2 linked regions of the Homo sapiens genome follow. The protein of the gene in region 2 interacts with the protein of the main gene of each other region in a pairwise test. Each region holds a gene or a part of one and is shown on either strand. Other genes may lie near its edges.

Evidence for each region.
Region 1: the proteins of ZNF521 (region 2) and CFAP298 interact in a two-hybrid assay, tested with the Homo sapiens proteins (one large-scale study listed by BioGRID and IntAct).

What each region holds. Positions count from the first base shown.
Region 1 is NC_000021.9:32,602,378-32,606,025, reverse strand, and holds part of CFAP298 (cilia- and flagella-associated protein 298), read left to right. Parts: intron 1-1,742; coding exon 1,743-1,901; intron 1,902-2,733; coding exon 2,734-2,865; coding exon of another isoform or gene 2,866-2,937; exon of another isoform or gene 2,938-3,648. Other genes in the region: CFAP298-TCP10L (uncharacterized protein LOC110091775), read left to right, coding at 1,743-1,901, 2,734-2,865. UniProt on the Homo sapiens protein: Plays a role in motile cilium function, possibly by acting on outer dynein arm assembly. Seems to be important for initiation rather than maintenance of cilium motility.
Region 2 is NC_000018.10:25,349,131-25,353,718, forward strand, and holds the start of ZNF521 (zinc finger protein 521), read right to left. Parts: upstream 3,037-4,588; 5' UTR 2,875-3,036; intron 1,818-2,874; 5' UTR 1,817-1,817; coding exon 1,777-1,816; intron 1-1,776. UniProt on the Homo sapiens protein: Transcription factor that can both act as an activator or a repressor depending on the context. Involved in BMP signaling and in the regulation of the immature compartment of the hematopoietic system.

The sequences.
Region 1 (3,648 bases), on a different chromosome or scaffold from region 2:
GGTTTGAAGTGGGGTTCTGTACCGTCTGCTCCCATGATGCCTCTTAAGTCCACCTCTTCCTTTCACTTCCACAGCTGTGGCTTTCTTTAAGGCTCTCCTGTAGCCTTTTGCATTCTGATGCCCACTGGGGGTCCTGCCAGTCAATTCAATTCCGTTCTGACACTAACTACTCAGAGACAGCACAGACCCCACAGGTCAAGGGCAGATCCTTCAATTCTGACACTAACTGCCTGGAGTTAGCATCAGACCTAAAAGTTAAAGGGTGAGATCACCAACAAGACTCCTCTTATTTCAGACACCAGCTGCACGTGAGGTCCCCAGGCCACCCATACTTGTGTCCAGCTTGACTACAAATTTGGAGCTTCCCACAACGCCCCCACTGATGTGTGTCACCCGGCACATCAACGTCTTCACCAATCAGGAAGCTTCACTGAGCCATGATGTCTGGGATTTTTATAGCGTTTTTGTTCAGTAGGCATGATGGCTTAAACCACTGGCCACGTGTTTGATCCCAACCTCTAGCGCCTGGAGGTGGAGGAAGGGAGTGAGGCCGAAAGCTCCAACCCTCTAATTATGTGCTTGGTCTCCCAGGCACGGCCAGCCCCTTCCTTGAAACCCAGCGCGGACTACAGGTTACTGTATTAGCACAAGCTCAGGTATGGTGAGAAGGGGCTCGTTATAAATAACAAGACACTCCTGTCACTCAGGAAATTCCAAGAGTTTTGGAGCTCTGTGCCTGGAACTGAGTAGCAAAGACCAGATATATTTGTTATTTCATCACACCTTCCTCTGTACTCTTCAGAGCCTGCTACCTGGTCTCCCTCCAACTAGGTCTGTTCTTTTTTTTGAGGCAGAGTCTTATTCTGTTGCCCAAGCTGGAGTGCAGTGGCACGATTTTGGCTTACTCCAACCTCTGCCTCCCAGGCTCAAGCAATTGTCCTGCCTCAGCCTGCTGAGTAGCTGGGACTACAGGCACCTGCCACCACGCCCAGCTAATTTTTGTATTTTTAGTAGAGACAGGGCTTTGCCATGTTGGCCAGGCTGGTCTCGAACTGCTGACCTCAGGTGATTTGCCCACCTCGGCCTCCCAAAGTGCTGGGATTACATAAGGTGTGAGCCACCACATCTGGCCAACTAGGTCTGTTCTATATCAGCTACAAGATAAATCTCTCAACATTACCACTCCTTCCCAGAAAAGGCAGTCGCTTCCCGTGGCCTAACAGAGGAAAGGTGAACTCTTCAGCCTGGCTTTTGTGGCCATTCAAAAACAAACTTCAGCTGATCCAGCTAGAGCTGGCCTCATCTTCTCTCCTTCCTGCCCCATGCTGAGGGGGCTGGCGCCTGCTTTTCTTTGTTTCAGCTTGTCCTGAAGCACCTGCTGCCATCTGTACCTTTTCAGCCCATCTGCATTTCGAGGCCCACCTGCGGTGCCTGCTCCCCCTGCCGTATCTCCCGATCCTCACTGCCATCTGTGCTGCCAGCATTGGGCTCTTTCTCCTTTGAGAATTCTTTGCACTTCATTGTACTCCATGCTCAGTGCTGCTCACCGTCTGCTTTATAATACAGGCCACGGTGTGCTTCGCTCAGCCCCTGAAATAGATGGTAGTCACTCTGGGAGCAAGAACTGTTTGATTTCTTTTTGTTGCTCTGGCAGTATCTGGCAAGGGTCTTGTACAAGATCTTGATCGAATTTATGGAAGTGATTAGCCACACTGTAGATAACGATGGCTTTCTGCTTGCAGAAACAAGTGGAAGCCGGTGTCTGTGTTACCATGGAGATGGTGAAAGATGCCTTGGACCAGCTTCGAGGCGCGGTGATGATTGTTTACCCCATGGGGTTGCCACCGTATGATCCCATCCGCATGGAGTTTGAAAATAAGGAAGACTTGTCGGGAACACAGGTACGTAGTTTGTGAGTGGGTACTCTGGAGGTTGAGTTCCTGGCCCCCAAAGCCCTTAAGATTTGATGCCCCTCTTCTGGATGTAGTGTTTTGCTCCCTACACAGCTTTCAGGTTTGCTATGCCCTGCTTCAGAGCAGAGTTCTGAATTCAGGAGCAGCCCCTGAGAGTGGGTACTCATGAGTGAGGGGTTTGGCCCCACACACAGGAGGCAGTGGACGCAGTTTGTGAGGCCGCTCATCAGGAGTGACTGCAAACATTTCCACTGTCTTTGGCTGCTAGGAAGCCAGCTACCTAATTTCTTCCTATTTCTACCCAAATGCGTCAGTCCCTTTGCATGGAAATTTGTGTTTCTAGTCTTACCTGTTGCTTCATGTTATTTTCTGACCCTCATGTTCCATTTTCCTTGGGTTTTCTCACTTCTTATCCTATTGGACAATATTCTTTGTCTAAGCCATGTTAAATAAATGAAATATGCAGAAGTAAACAGGCAGCCCCTTTATACCTCGATTTAAACACCCAGCACGATGCCAGTGCCCTTCCCTGGCAGTGGCCTACAGATCTGTCTAAGACGAACTATATGGATCAAGGTGCAAATGAGATAGGATCTCCCTGTTGTCCAGAGGAGGAAGTTAACTGAGTCAGGGCATGAGTGGAAACTTAACAGGGAAGGTACTAAAGTCAGCAAGGACTTAGAGTGAGGTGCGGGAGTCAGGCCTCCCATGGTGAGCACGGGGAGAAATCTGTCCCCTGCCCCCTGCTGGGAGGGGCTCAGCTGGGCTCTGCCCCCTGGGTGGGAACACACAGTCAAGCCATTCTTACGACTGGCCCCAGGCAGGGCTCAACGTCATTAAAGAGGCAGAGGCGCAGCTGTGGTGGGCAGCCAAGGAGCTGAGAAGAACGAAGAAGCTTTCAGACTACGTGGGGAAGAATGAAAAAACCAAAATTATCGCCAAGATTCAGCAAGTAAGTACTTTTTGCTTTAATGTGTCAGTAGTTTTTGTTATTTCCCTTCAAACTGATAAAAATGTACAGTGAATCCGAAAGATTTAAACTACTGGTACAAATATTTTAATCTTATTGGCTCGGGTTTAAACTAAAAATATCCTCTTCCTGCACACCAACAAAAACTGGAAGAAAATATGGATTGAGTACCAATATCTAGAGTTTGTTTTAATATGTGGGGGAGAGGAAATATACTATGTTAATTTCAAGCGTAAAAATAGGGCTGCAAGTAAACAGATATGTTCCTTGAAATGTAAAATTTCGCCCGTCACTGATTTCAGGCTTTTTCAAACTGCTGATGCTGTGTACAGGAGGGGGAGGAGGAAAGGTTCGAGACCTTTGAAGGACATCGTGTAGCGCTGTAACCTGAGGGGCCGCCTTGGTTTTGTGGGTGCTCCTACGTCACTAGGCTGTGATTTTGGGGAAATGGGGCCCTCCACCTTATGTAGATCCAGAGTCCGTGGCTCTGAGCATCCTCCCTTTCCCACTGGACCTGCCTGCAGTGTCTGCCTTGGGAATGGTCAAGACAGAGATGGTATCGTGCAGCCTCTGGTCTCCACACAGTGAGAGTCCAGGGCTCAGGGCTGCTCAAGACCAAGGCTTCCCTTGATGCTTCACTTCGGGTGATCAGACATGGGGGACCTGTTTATCTTTAGTAGCCGGCAAAGGCAATCGTAAAACATTTGTTGTAACTTCAGGATTGTCACTCTAAGAACACCTTAATCCACAATTTGCTCTGCTCTC
Region 2 (4,588 bases):
ACCGGACAGGCACTAACCGCTATCCTACTTCAACTCGGAAAGTTCTTCTTTCCAAGTGACTAGGAAGAGGTTTGTCCTGGTACTTCGCTCAGCGTTACTTTCAAGAAAGCCGGGGTCTCGGGCAAGTCTCGCCGGCGCGAGCCTGGTCCACCGTTACCCTGACACCCGCGCACGCCCGTGGCGTTTCTTTTTTCACTGTCGACACTTGGATCTTTCAGGCCCTGGGTCTAGGTTTCCCCCAGAAAAATGAGGGGCCCATGTGACGGAAACCACCAGACACACTGTGTGGAGACACATGCCAATGATTCACCTCGTTCCCGAACTAAAACTTCTGCGCTTTAGGAAAAAAGCAAGCGTTCCAATCTGCGAGGCCCTCCCCCACCCCGTCCCTTCCCAGGAGAAGAAAGAAAGGGCTTTGTGTGTGCGGTGAGGGCTCCGTTCATCGAGTTCAAAAATGCACAGCGGCCGGGGGCCGGGAGGCGTGGGGCGCCGGGCCCTGCCCACCCCTTTTCCCCGGGCCGGCGGCGAGTCGGGAAGCTGGTGCGGGAACCGGGGCCACGGGGCGCCGCGGCCCGGCAGCCAGGAGGAAGAGGATGCTGCGCCGCCGGGGACCAGAGGGCGGGGCCGGGCCGCGCGGACCTCGGCGGGACCCAGCGGGCCCGGGCGGGCGCACCAGCCGCCCTTTGTCCTCCGCCTCCGGGTCGCGGGGGCCGCGGCCGCCTCCAGCGCTGGCCCCCTGGCCCTCGCCCCGGTTCCCCGTCCTGCCCGCGCGCCCCTCCTCCGGCCCTCGCGCTCCGCCGCCCGCCCTCCCCGCTCTCCGCCTCGGAGCGCCGGACCTCGCGGCTCCCCTCGGCCGCCCGCCCCCGATTTCCTCGGAAGGAGGCTCGCGAAGGTGGAGGAGGCGGCCGAGGAGGAGGAGGAGGCCGCCACGTGACTCTCCTCGCCACATTCCAACACAGCCATCAGATCGATAACTTCAGGGACCCCCGCCCCCGCCGCAGCCAGCTAGTGCGCCCCCAAAATCCCGCACGCACGCCCCGCAACTTCCCTCTCCAACAGGGACGACGGAGAGCTGGACCCCACCGCGAAACGCAAAGGACTCCAGGGGCGGCGGGGAGAAGTAGGGGCGAGGGGCGGTCAACTTCTGGGAATGGCCAAGAGGGGTGCTCTGAGGCCCGAGCCGGGGTCCGGTGCCCGCGGCCGGCGGCCGGGGTCTGTTTACTCCGGCGACGTGCGGAGAGGACCCAAGCAGGACGCGGGCGGGCGGGAGGCGGCGGCCGGGACCCCGGGCCACGTTTGTCACGAGCGGGGGCTGCTCCCCACCTCCGAGATGACTTTTTTCTTCTTCCAAAGAAAAGGAAAAAAGAAGCACCGCACGGTTTTGCATATTTATTCTTTGCGAAAACACACAACAGAAACTTTTTCCTCCAGCCCAGATGTAGATCTCAGACGGGATATTTTTTTTTCCTCCCTCTCCGGATAATTTCGTTTCTTTCTCTCTCTCTCTCTTTTTTTTTTTCGGTTGTTGTTGTCTTTTCTCGCCCACTTTCTACCGCCGCCCCATTCGGGGATCCTCCTCCCGTCTTCGTCTCCCCCCACCCCGACACCTCACCCTCACTCCACCTAGGGGCTCAGCGGGGAGGGGAGCGCGCGCGCCCCCGCACTCACACTCACACTCACGCGCGCACACGCCTCGCAGCCACGCAGCCCTCGCTCCGCTACCCACAGTGACACTCGCGGATGGGGGAAAGCGGGGAGCAGGGGGTTCCTCCTTACCTTTGAGGGATCTCGGTTTCGCTTGCTTGCGGCGAGACATCCTAAAAGCAAACAGCTGAAGTTGTTTCAATTCAGCCCTGAAAGAAACTATACTTCCTCGTGGCCGCGCGCCCCTCGGGCCGCGGCGCCTCGCGCCCTCCGCTCGGCCTCCCTCGCGCCCTCGCTCCGCGCTCCGCTCCTCGCTCCGGCTCCGGCTCGCGCTCGCGCGCGGGGCTCGCGGCTGCCCGAGCTCCGCGCTCTGCACGACGGCGGCGGCGGCGGCGGCGGCTGCTGCACCAAACTTTCCCAGCCTTCGACCCCCACCCCCAATCTCCAAGAAAAAAAAAAAAAAAGGAAAAAGAAAAAAGGAAAGGAGGGAAAAAAAGCTAAAAAAAAAACCCCAAAGACAATGTTTGAAGAGCCGTCAGCTACACTAAAAAGAGAAAATCCGTTACTATTTCCACCTCAATCAAAATTCACATAGTTCATGCGAATAGAAAAAAACTAATAAAAAGAAAAGCGTCTGGGTGATTTTTTTTTTCTTTACCGCTTTTCCTTTTCAACAAATCCGCCCCCCCCCCCACCGGAAAAAAACAAATAACACTGATTTGTTTACAAAGCGAGTCGTGCTCTTTTGTAGTTGGGGGGACGAGGGGGGGAAATCGACCCTGCAAGGCGATGAAAAGGTCTTGGAAAGAAAAATCTCCCACCATCCGAGGCAGATGCGAACGGGCCACGAAAATAAGCAAAGGGAAAAAAATACTTTTTTTCTCCCTTCCCCCCACCCTTTTTTTCTTAACCCACACTAAAGTAATTTCTTTCAAAAAGAAAAAGCCAAAGCACCCGAGCCGACGGCCCCCAGGTGGTGTGCGGGGCTGCTTGTGTGCAGGGGGTGTGCGGGGCCCGGGCTCGGGGCGCCCCTCTCTGGGCGGGGGCGCGGCGCCGGCGGCTGGCGCTGGACCGGGGCTCTAAAGTCTACGGCTGCCTCGGCAGCGGCGGCGGCAGCAGCGGCGGCAGCGGCGGCGGCAGCGGCGGCGAGAGCAGGAGGAGGAGGAGGAGGAGAGCCGGGAGCAGGAGGAGGAGAAGGAGTGTGCTGTGTGCTCCCTCCTCATCACAAACCTGCAAGGTCTTGGACTGCGCTGTCGCTCCGGTAGTCCACATAATAATGGAAAATGGAAGCAAGGCCCCCAAAGCCATCAGGATGGCTCCAGAGGGGGCCCCTAACCCGCAGGGACTCGCTCTGTACGTAATCACTGAGGAAATCATTGTCAGCCTGCCTGCACTCACACACAGACAGAGGGGCATGATTAAAAGGCGAGAGCGCGGGGAGCGGGAGGGAGGAGGGGGCCCGCCAAGACCCGGACTGGAGGCGCCGGCCGCGGCGCGCGGATCCGGAGCCAGGCGGCGGCCGAGCGCCCCGAGCCCCGCCCGCCGCCGCCGCCGCCGCCGCCGCCTCCCACGCGCCGCGCGCCCCGCCCGCTCCTGCGCCGCCGCCCCTCGCGCCGCCCGCCCGGCCGCTCGCACACCCCGCGCCGCCGCCGTCGCCGCCGCCGCAGCTGCGTTATTAGAGCTCCACGGCGGATCTCGGGGCTCTTCTGCTCGCTTTTTTTCCTCTTCAGAAATTAAAGCAGAGGAGCATCTGAAAGTGGAAAGGTCCCCCTTCTGGTAGGATGGATGTAAAAGGAGGCAACAATTTGTTCTTGAGGGGGCAAAAAAAAAAAAAAAAAAAAAGAAAAAGAAAAAGAAAAAGAAAGGAGGGGGGAAATTCATTGCTTGGCTTTTGCATTGTCGGACTTTAAAAAAGTGTGTCTGCTGTTGTTGCCCGGACTCGGGAAATCTTTTTTATGGCAACCGCAGACCTGCCAAGTCTCTCTTACTTGGAATCTTTATAAAGGCAAGTTATTTGGACTTTTTTTTTATTTTCTCGTTTAGAGAAAGTCATTGATGCTGACGAATGTCATAATGTGATTCAAAAGAGACAGCTTTGAGTTCACTTTTTTAACATTCTCAAATTGACATAGATCTTTGTCCAGAAAATAAAGCTTTCTGTTGATTTTTTCTTTAAGCAAGAGGTAAGGAAATATGCACTTAAGAATATGTGTACAAGAAAATAGTTTCTAAAATAAATTGAAATGTCTGCAGGTCGGTGGGAATTTTTGTTTCTTTTCGCAGTTTTGTTTTCTAACTTTTCACCTGCTCCCATCGCAAAACAAGAAACCATCACCTGTTTCCTTCTTTTACCTTATCTTAAGGGAAAGGATGTTTTAGTATTATTATTGTTGTTGCTATTTATTGATTGGACACGCTTGTCAAGTTATAAATGCCTGAGAGGGCTACCAAGTAGAGCTTAGATTCACAAGTCTTGGTGGAAATTAAGAGATTCAGAATACGGTTAATTACACAAAACAGGCAGAATTTTGTACAAATACTATTGTTCTTAATCAGATTTTAAAAATTCTCCGTTCTGTAAAATTAAGGTACAGCTATCTATTAAGCCACCATGCAAAGACATCAAAGCTTTAAGGAAGTTGTATTTTTTCCAGTCTAACCTGTAAACTGCCTGGACCCTCATGTGGATAGCTGCAAATACAGTATGTTTTTTTTCAATATCTTCATTATAATTAAATGAGTTTTCAATCCATCTGCAGTAATTCCTAAAGTGAAATCATAGTTGTAGTCAAATTTAACTTTGCATGACTGTGAAATAAAGCAACTTTTGTTGCAGAATCTGTGTTGGTACATTAAGGATTCTAGATTTTATACATAACCTTATACATTCATTTTCACAGAAATCATTCAGAAAGGGAAAAATGTGTAAACACCAAGTTTTTAC